Linked DNA regions of Homo sapiens: region 2 is linked to region 1. The links come from fine-mapping of genetic effects on gene expression. A gene starts in region 1. The other region holds a variant in brackets. All regions are shown on one strand. Distances are between the middles of the regions. Region 1 holds the start of ARHGDIA (Rho GDP dissociation inhibitor alpha). Region 2 overlaps GCGR (glucagon receptor).

What was found. PIP is the estimated chance that this variant, and not a neighbour inherited with it, causes the effect.
Region 2: its variant is fine-mapped to the expression of ARHGDIA in neutrophils (BLUEPRINT, PIP 0.95).

Annotation. Positions count from the first base shown.
Region 1 is chr17:81,869,426-81,873,797 of GRCh38, forward strand. It overlaps ARHGDIA (Rho GDP dissociation inhibitor alpha), which reads right to left and starts at 1,912. Exons shown (of 6, transcript NM_004309.6): 1 at 1,873-1,912; 2 at 316-532; 3 at 117-200. The coding sequence starts at 505. RefSeq lists silencers at 1-189, 1,220-1,649, 1,850-2,259 and enhancers at 320-499, 2,440-2,509, 2,960-3,059.
Region 2 is chr17:81,807,293-81,811,664 of GRCh38, forward strand. It overlaps GCGR (glucagon receptor), which reads left to right. Exons shown (of 14, transcript NM_000160.5): 2 at 1,550-1,786; 3 at 2,490-2,592; 4 at 3,533-3,640; 5 at 3,718-3,839; 6 at 3,930-4,036; 7 at 4,112-4,268; 8 at 4,359-4,372. The coding sequence starts at 1,727. Among named protein-coding and RNA genes, the nearest start is that of GCGR, 5.3 kb to the left of the region's middle. The variant GTC/G (reference allele first, on the strand shown) is at 2,449.

The DNA.
Region 1 (4,372 bases):
CTCAATGACTGCCCAGCAGCCCTGCGCGAAGCCCCAGCCCTGCGCGGCCCCCTGGCTGCACTTCCCGAGATCCCCACCAGGGGCCGCCCGGACCCCCGCGGCCGCAGGGCACTCACCCGTCAGGTCCAGCTCCAGGGGGCCCGGGGCCGAGCTGCACACCAGGGTCAGGCCAGTCACCACGACGTTGGGGACGTTGGGGTCTGGGGAGTGACAGCAGGTGAGGGCCCCACCCCCACCAGTGGAAGTAGGGGCTGGGGAGCGGCAAGACAGCTGGAGTGAACGGGCGGCCACCCGGCTCCCGCAGCCCAGACTCACCTGCGGAAACGGCCACGCGGCCCAGCAGGGCCTCCTTGTACTTTCGCAGGCTCTCGTCGTCCTTGTCCAGCTCCTGGATCTCCTGGATGCTCTTCTGGGCCGGGGGCTTGTAGTTGACCGAGTGCTCATCCTCCTCGTTCTCCGCTGCAATCTGGGCCAGCTGCTCGGCTGTGGGCTCCTGCTCAGCCATGCTCAAGCTTAGCCTGGGTCGGGACACCTGTGGGCGGGACGGTGACAGGCCTTGGACCTGGATCCCCAACGGAGGCGCACTTCTGAGCAGGAGTGTGGGCTGCAGCCGGAGCTCCAAAAGGGCTCCAAGGGGGCCACCTTCGCTCCTCTCCACCCCCGCGATTCCTGCTCAGGGGCATCCTCTGGGGCAGTGTGAGGTGCCCCCACCCCAGGTATAACATCTAAGACAAAATGGGAACTGCAGCCGATCATGGGGAGAGAGGACACACCTCCCCCTCCACGATGGAGGAGGCAGCAGCCCCCTGTATGTGTGGGGCGGGGCTAGCAGGCCCCAGAATCAACCGGCGGGGCCCACACTAAACCCTCTCTTAGGGTCTTGCCGCTCTTGAGCTGCCCAGGCCCTCGCCCTACGGGGTAACGGGGCTCGGTATCCCTCAGTAGGGTTGCTCCTCTGGCCGTGGTAGTCACATGTAAACGTGTGTGGTCGGCTCAGCGTCATCTTTCAAACAGGATGCCCCTGGAGCTCGGATGTTAGGGGCAGCTAGAATACCGCACGGGGCCACCTGGACACGGGGATCCTAAGTATCTGCGGTTTCTCCACAATTGTGAGGGTCTGTGACCTACAACTTGGGAGCTACCACAGCCACTCAGTACTCTCGGGCCCTCTTGTAGATGGTGGGCCCGGAGTGCCCGGGGCAGCACTGACCCGGCAGGGGATCTGTCAGGCTCAGATCCTTCCCGGCAGCGTGGGAGGTGGGTCAGGGAGCAGCACACCCGGGACACCCAGGCCGGGGTCCAGGCCGCCCTGCTTCCTCCAGGGGCTGGGGCCTCCGCGCCGCGCGAGGATAGCCGTAGGCGCCGGGATCCTAGGGCGCGGCCCGCACTTCCGCAGGGCCCGCAATCCGTGCCGGGCGTGGCCCGGGCGCTGGGGGAGGCCGCGCCCCAATCCCCGCGTCGCCCCCGAACGCGATGGACCGCGGCTGCCGGCCCGGCGCCCCCCGCGTCCCCAAGGAGGGGCCCTCAGGTCTGGCCCGGGCCCCACGCGCCTCGGCGGCCATGAAAGAAGCTCCGGACCGCTCGGGAGGGGCCGGCACTCCCCTGGTCCCCGCCGCCCCTCCGGCCCGGGACCCGCACGTGGGGCCGGGGCCGCCGCCGCCCGGTCCCGCCCCGGCCCCGCCCTAGCCCGCACCGCCCTGGCCCGCTGTCACCGCGCCCCCGCCCGCCGAGACCCTGCCGCGGGCTCAGGGCGGGGCGCGAACAAAGGCGGAAGCCCCCACCTCAGCGCCCCCCGCCCCCGCCGGCGCCGCCGGTCCCCGCCCCGACCCGCCGCCTCCGCCCCGCCGCCTCCGCCCCGCCACGGCCACTCACCGGAGGGTTCGGCCGCGCGGTTCAGGATCCCTCCCGCACTAAATGACGAACGTCGTCGGCCGCCCCGCCCGCCCTGCCTGTCACTTCCGGGGTCACGAGACTTCCGCTCACTCGGGCGGGGAAGGCCAGGGCGCATGCGCGGCGCGCGGGTGGCCGGGGGCACGCCGTCGCCATCTTGCGGCTGGGCCTCGTGGGCGCGTTCCGCGTGGGTTCTGGCGTCGTCACCTTCCACCCCAAGCCCCGTCAGTGGTCACCTCTGTAAGCCAGGGCACTTCCCTACGCGAGCCCAGGGCGCCCGCACCCGGGAGGCGAGGTCCGGTCCCGCCTCTCGCCGCTGCCCAACCCGCGCCCACTCGAGGCCTGCGGCGGCCGCGTGGGCTGTGGAAGCCCGCGCAGGTGCAGTGCGCTGCCCTCCCCGGCCCAGTCGGTCCGACTGCGACTCTTGCTTCGGGGCCTAGTCACCTAGTCCCGGGACTTCGGGGAGGTAACGGGCACGGGGATTAAGTTCTCGTTAAACACGGGCGAGAGCGCTGGCGCGCGGGCCGTTCCAGGGCCTTGGTGTCCCCCGTGGAAAGACAGGGCTGTGGGGCTAGGAGGAGCCCCTTGCACGCCCCGCGGAAAGCTGGTGCTGGGCGAGGGCGCAGCGGAGGTGTTTTTCTCCAGGCTGAGACAGAATTCGTGCGCAGCGCGCGTGGCTGCCTGGCGCAGGCGCCGCTGCAGAGGCCCTAGTGTCCCTGAGGAATCCCGCGGCTCCTCAGGACCAGGAGGCAGGGAGCTCCTGGCACCGTGAGCAGATGAGGGGCTGCCTCAGCCTGGGCTTCACCGCAGAGCCCTGTTCCCCACTCCGCTTGTTCCGAGATTCCACACATTCGCCCACAAGGGCCGTGTTGAAGTATCAGGAACGGCCGCATAACGTGAGTGGCCTGGCCCAGCAGCAGTGCTCGCACCCAGCCCCGGGCTCGCCTCTCCTGGAGGCCAAGCCCCTAAATGCCCTGCACCAGACACTGGGTGGGACGCTGCCCCGCGTCCAGCCTGCAGCACTTGTTAGGACTGTGGACTCGTTAACGTGGACGCCTCTTTTATTTATTGATTGATTATTTTTTTGAGACGTAGTCTCAGTGTCGCCCAGGCTTGAGTACAATGGCACAATCTCGGCTCACTGCAACCTCCACCTTTCAGGTTCAAGCGATTCTCCTGCCTCAGCCTCCCGAGTAGTTAGGATTACAAGTGTGAGCCAACATGCCCAGCTAATTTTTGTATTTTTAGTAGCGACAGGGTTTCACCATGTTGGCCAAGCTGGTCTCGAATTCCTGACCTCAGGTGATCCACCCACCTCAGCCTCCCAAAGCGCTGGGATTACAGGCATGAACCACCGGGGTGCCCAATCTTTTTTTTTTTTTTTTTTTTTCTTCAAGACAGGGTCTTGCTCTTTTGCCCAGGCTGGAGTGCAGTGGTACAATCTCAGCTTACTGCTGCCTCTATCTCCTGGGCTCAAGCAGTCCTTCCACCTCAGCCTCCCGAGTAGCTGGGACTACAGGTGTGCAACACCATGTCCAGCTAATTTTTTATTTTTTGTACAGACAGGGTCTCACTATGTTGCTCAGGCTGGTCTTGAACCCCTGAGCTCAAGCGATCCTCCTGCCTCAGCCTCCCAAAGTGCTAGGATTACAGGTGTGAGCCACCATGTCCGGCCACCCAGCCTCTTTTAATCACTCTTGAGCTCCATGCAGACAGGGCCCTGTCTGTTTGGCCCATACTGCCAGGCAACCCAGGCTGATCAAGAGAAGTGGAGACCACACGCACACACACACGCACAGCTGCTTTGTTCAGACACAGACATGAACACAGGAGGGCATTTTTGGGGACAGAACTATGCAAAATACCGAGCTTGGTGTCTTTTGAAAATTTCTGAATGTTGGAGGGATATTTGAGAGTTTCTGTAACTGAGTCACACTGTCAGTGCCATGTCATCAGCACAGCGTTTCCTAATCAGGTGTGAAATGCTTCACTGTTAAAGACTCAGAGCCCCTGTGCAGGTGATCATGTTGCCCAACTTTCCAATAACCCAAGTGCTTTTAAAAAAAAACTGTTGGGCCGGGCGCGGTGGCTCACGCCTGTAATCCCAGCACTTTGGGAGGCCGAGGCGGGCGGATCACGAAGTCAGGAGATCGAGATTGTCCTGGCTAACACGGTGAAACCCCGTCTCTACTAAAAATACAAAAAATTAGCCAGGCGTGGTTGCAGGTGCGTGTAGTCCCAGCTACTCGGGAGGGTGAGGCAGGAGAATGGCGTGAACCCGGGAGGCGGAACTTGCAGTGAGTGGAGATCTCGCCACTGCACTCCAGCCGGGGCGACAGAGCGAGACTCTGTCAAAATAAATAAATAAATACATAAATAAAAGATTCGATTGTGTGGGTATACATTTTGTTTGTAACCATTCCAGTTGGCAAATATTTGGTTTCTTTTTTGTCCATTATGAATAATACTGCCATAAACATTT
Region 2 (4,372 bases), 62 kb before region 1:
TGCCTCCCATCGGCCCCTACATGAGCCCAGGGTCCAAGGGCTGCGGTTGGGAGCTCTTTAGCAGTCTGTGACGCAGGTGCCTGTCCCTGTCATTCAGCTGTCACACTGCTTGGGGCATCTCAGGCCCCGTTAGCGGGGCAGCCCTGGGTGGAGCTGGCCCCACGCGGGCTCACCCAGCCGCTACCTGGAGGAGGCTAAAATCCAGGCTGTCCCGTGGCAGCCAGCAGTCCAGGCCTGCCCGGAAACCCTCTGCTCCAGCTGCAGCCTTCGCCCATCTCCTTGCCCCTCTCCCCGGCTTCCCCCTGGCACTGCCTTCCAGCTGGCTGGCCCTCCATCTGCCCAGCCATCCATCCACACCTCTTATTCCATTTGAGGGTGCCCCAAAGAAGAGCCCGTAACAGCCCGGGGGCTCATAGCCAGCCACTCGCGGGACCCCGCACATGCACGTGGACCCACAGGAAGACCCTCCCTGCTTCTCCCACAGAATTCAGTTGGTGCAGAAACTGGGCTCTGTAGCAACGAAAGGCCGATTTGTGTAGCTGTTGCCACCCCGAACTCCCAGCTCAGATGCTGGCTGTGGCATGGGGACCAGGGGCTGTGACTCCCACAGCCCTGGCAGGCACCACGGGGGATGTCCTCCCCACCCTGTGCCCCCACCCTAGGCCAGCTCCTCCTCCAAGTCGACGCCCGCAGTGCTAACCTCAAAGGACTGTGCAGCCAGCCTGTGGCGTCCCATGGGATCCAGGAAGCCCAACCGAGCCTTGCACGGCACCCACGAGGCACCTAGGCACCCCGGTGCTGGGCAGGGGGCACACATGTGACACAGACCCCTGAGTGTGGGCCCCACACACTTGGCCTGGCACAGCTGCAAGCCAGCCCAGCCACTTTGCTCGCTGTGGCACTGGGGCCAAGTGATGGAAGGTCCAGGCACCGCCACCCTCACGCTTGGCACATTGGCTCAGGTCAGCCTGGCAAGCCAGCTTTCCCAGGGGCTAAGAATAGGTGAGGAGGATGGTGAGGAAGCAGCCGGGGGCTGTCAACTGAGGGAGGAGGTCACCATCTGGGGAGGCTGGTCCCCCACCCAAGAGCATTGGGTCAACCTGCAGGAAGGTGGCTGCCACCAGCAATGAGACGAGGGGCTCTGCGACCCTCAGAGCTGCCAGCCAGCCAGCCCTGGGTGGCAAGAGTGACTCCTCCTGGGGTCTCCTCCCTCCTATCGCCCTCTTTTTTTTTTTTTTTTTTTTTGAGACGGAGTCTCGCTCTGTCACCCAGGCTGGACTGCAATGGCTTGATCTCCGCTCACTGCAAGCTCTGCCTCCCGGGTTCACGCCATTCTCCTGCCTCAAGCTCCCGAGTAGCTGGGACTACAGACGCCCGCCACCACGCCTGGCTAATTTTTTGTATTTTTAGTAGAGACGGGGTTTCACTGTGTTAGCCAGGATGGTCTCGATCTCCAGACCTCGTGATCCACCCCCCTCGGCCTCCCAAAGTTCTGGGATTACAGGCGTGAGCCGCCGCGCCCGGCCCCCAGCTCCCTCTTTATCCCTAGGACCCTGAGGCTCAGAGGGGCAGCTTCAGGGGAGGACACCCCACTGGCCAGGACGCCCCAGGCTCTGCTGCTCTGCCACTCAGCTGCCCTCGGAGGAGCGTACACACCCACCAGGACTGCATTGCCCCAGCTGTGCAGCCCCTGCCAGATGTGGGAGGCAGCTAGCTGCCCAGAGGCATGCCCCCCTGCCAGCCACAGCGACCCCTGCTGCTGTTGCTGCTGCTGCTGGCCTGCCAGGTGAGGACTCACAGCACCCTCAGCACCCAGGGGCCCTCCTGTGAGGACTGCACACTGATGGCTCTCTGTCTGCCTGCCTGCCTGCCTGCCTGTCTGCCTGCCTGTCTGTCTGTCTGCCCGTCTGCCTGCCCATCTGCCTGTCTGTCTGCCTGTCCGTCTGTCTGTCCATCTGTCCATCTGCCTATCCATCTGCCTGCCTGTCTGCCTGTCCGTCTGCCTGTCTGTCTGCCTGTCCATCTGTCCATCTGCCTATCCATCTGCCTGCCTGTCTGTCGGCCTGCCTGCCTGCCTGTCTGTCTGCTGCCTGTCTGTCCGTCTGCCTGTCTGCCTGTCCGTCTGCCTGCCTGTCCGTCTGCCTGTCCGTCTGCCTGCCTGCCTGTCTGTCTGCCTGCCTGTCTGCCTGCCTGTCCGTCTGCCTGTCCGTCTGCCTGCCTGTCTGCCTGCCTGTCTGCCTGTCTGCCCGTCTGCCTGTCTGTCTGCCTGTCCGTCTGCCTGTCTGTCCGTCTGTCCATCTGCCTATCCATCTGCCTGCCTATCTGTCTGTCCGTCTGCCTGCCTGTCTGTCTGCCTGTCTGCCTGTCTGTCTGCCTGTCTGTCCATCTGCCTATCCATCTACCTGCCTGCCTGTCTGCCTGTCTGTCTGCCTGTCTGTCTGCCTGCCT[GTC/G]TGTCTGTCTGTCTGGTTGCTTGTGCATGTGTCCCCCAGCCACAGGTCCCCTCCGCTCAGGTGATGGACTTCCTGTTTGAGAAGTGGAAGCTCTACGGTGACCAGTGTCACCACAACCTGAGCCTGCTGCCCCCTCCCACGGGTGAGCCCCCCACCCAGAGCCTTTCAGCCTGTGCCTGGCCTCAGCACTTCCTGAGTTCTCTTCATGGGAAGGTTCCTGGGTGCTTATGCAGCCTTTGAGGACCCCGCCAAGGGGCCCTGTCATTCCTCAGGCCCCCACCACCGTGGGCAGGTGAGGTAACGAGGTAACTGAGCCACAGAGCTGGGGACTTGCCTCAGGCCGCAGAGCCAGGAAATAACAGAACGGTGGCATTGCCCCAGAACCGGCTGCTGCTGCTGCCCCCAGGCCCAGATGGGTAATACCACCTACAGCCCCGTGGAGTTTTCAGTGGGCAGACAGTGCCAGGGCGTGGAAGCTGGGACCCAGGGGCCTGGGAGGGCTCGGGTGGAGAGTGTATATCATGGCCTGGACACTTGGGGTGCAGGGAGAGGATAGGGCTGGAGGACTCACCCGGGAGGCAGTGCCTGGGTTCGGATGAGGGAGGCAGCCACCACTGGGCAGAGGGGGGCAGGTGTGGCAGCCTCCATTGGGCAGAGGGAGCAGATGTGGCAGCCACAGGTTTGGCGATGCACCTGGGAAGGATGAAAATGGCATTGGGGTTCAGCCCCCAGAGAGGGAGGTGCTGAGAGAAGGTCACGGAGAATGGGGGACCCCAGTGTGGGTTTGGGGCACATTTGAGATGGGGGGTCTCCAAGGGAAGGTGTCCTGCAGAGCTGCAATTCAGGGCTGGGCTGGGCGTGCTAGCGGAGGCTGGTCCAGGGGAGGTGGATGGTCAGGTGAGGAAGGTGGAGGTCAGATGGGGGAGGTGGAGGTCAAGTGGGGGAGGGAGCAGCCCAGGCCATGTCCTGGGCGAGGTGACGGCCGAGCTCAGGCTTCCAGAGAGAGGAGAGAGGCCTGCTGAGGGAGCCCCTTCTCCCACCCTGCCCTGCCCTGCTCTGCCCTGCCCTACCCTACCCTGCAGAGCTGGTGTGCAACAGAACCTTCGACAAGTATTCCTGCTGGCCGGACACCCCCGCCAATACCACGGCCAACATCTCCTGCCCCTGGTACCTGCCTTGGCACCACAAAGGTACCCATAGAGGGGAGGAACTGTGGGGGGGGCGGGCCCAGGGTGGGGCTGACCCCAGCCTCCCCCCACACCCCCAGTGCAACACCGCTTCGTGTTCAAGAGATGCGGGCCCGACGGTCAGTGGGTGCGTGGACCCCGGGGGCAGCCTTGGCGTGATGCCTCCCAGTGCCAGATGGATGGCGAGGAGATTGAGGTCCAGGTCAGTGGGCGGCAGGCAGGCGCGGTGGGGCTGGATGGGAACGGGCATGGGGGCCCCTGCCTGGCCCTCACAGGCCACTGTAACTCGCAGAAGGAGGTGGCCAAGATGTACAGCAGCTTCCAGGTGATGTACACAGTGGGCTACAGCCTGTCCCTGGGGGCCCTGCTCCTCGCCTTGGCCATCCTGGGGGGCCTCAGGTAGGATTCCGCCAGCGCCCGGGGCGGCCGCAGAGGACAGGGAGGAGGACGGGCGCTGACTGGCTGTGCCCACAGCAAGCTGCACTGCACCCGCAATGCCATCCACGCGAATCTGTTTGCGTCCTTCGTGCTGAAAGCCAGCTCCGTGCTGGTCATTGATGGGCTGCTCAGGACCCGCTACAGCCAGAAAATTGGCGACGACCTCAGTGTCAGCACCTGGCTCAGTGATGGAGTGAGCCCCCCTCGGCGGCCCCAGGCAGGTGGGTGGGTGGGCAGCCAGGCAGGTGGCCACGTAGCCGCGCTCACACTGCACCTGTACCAGGCGGTGGCTGGCTG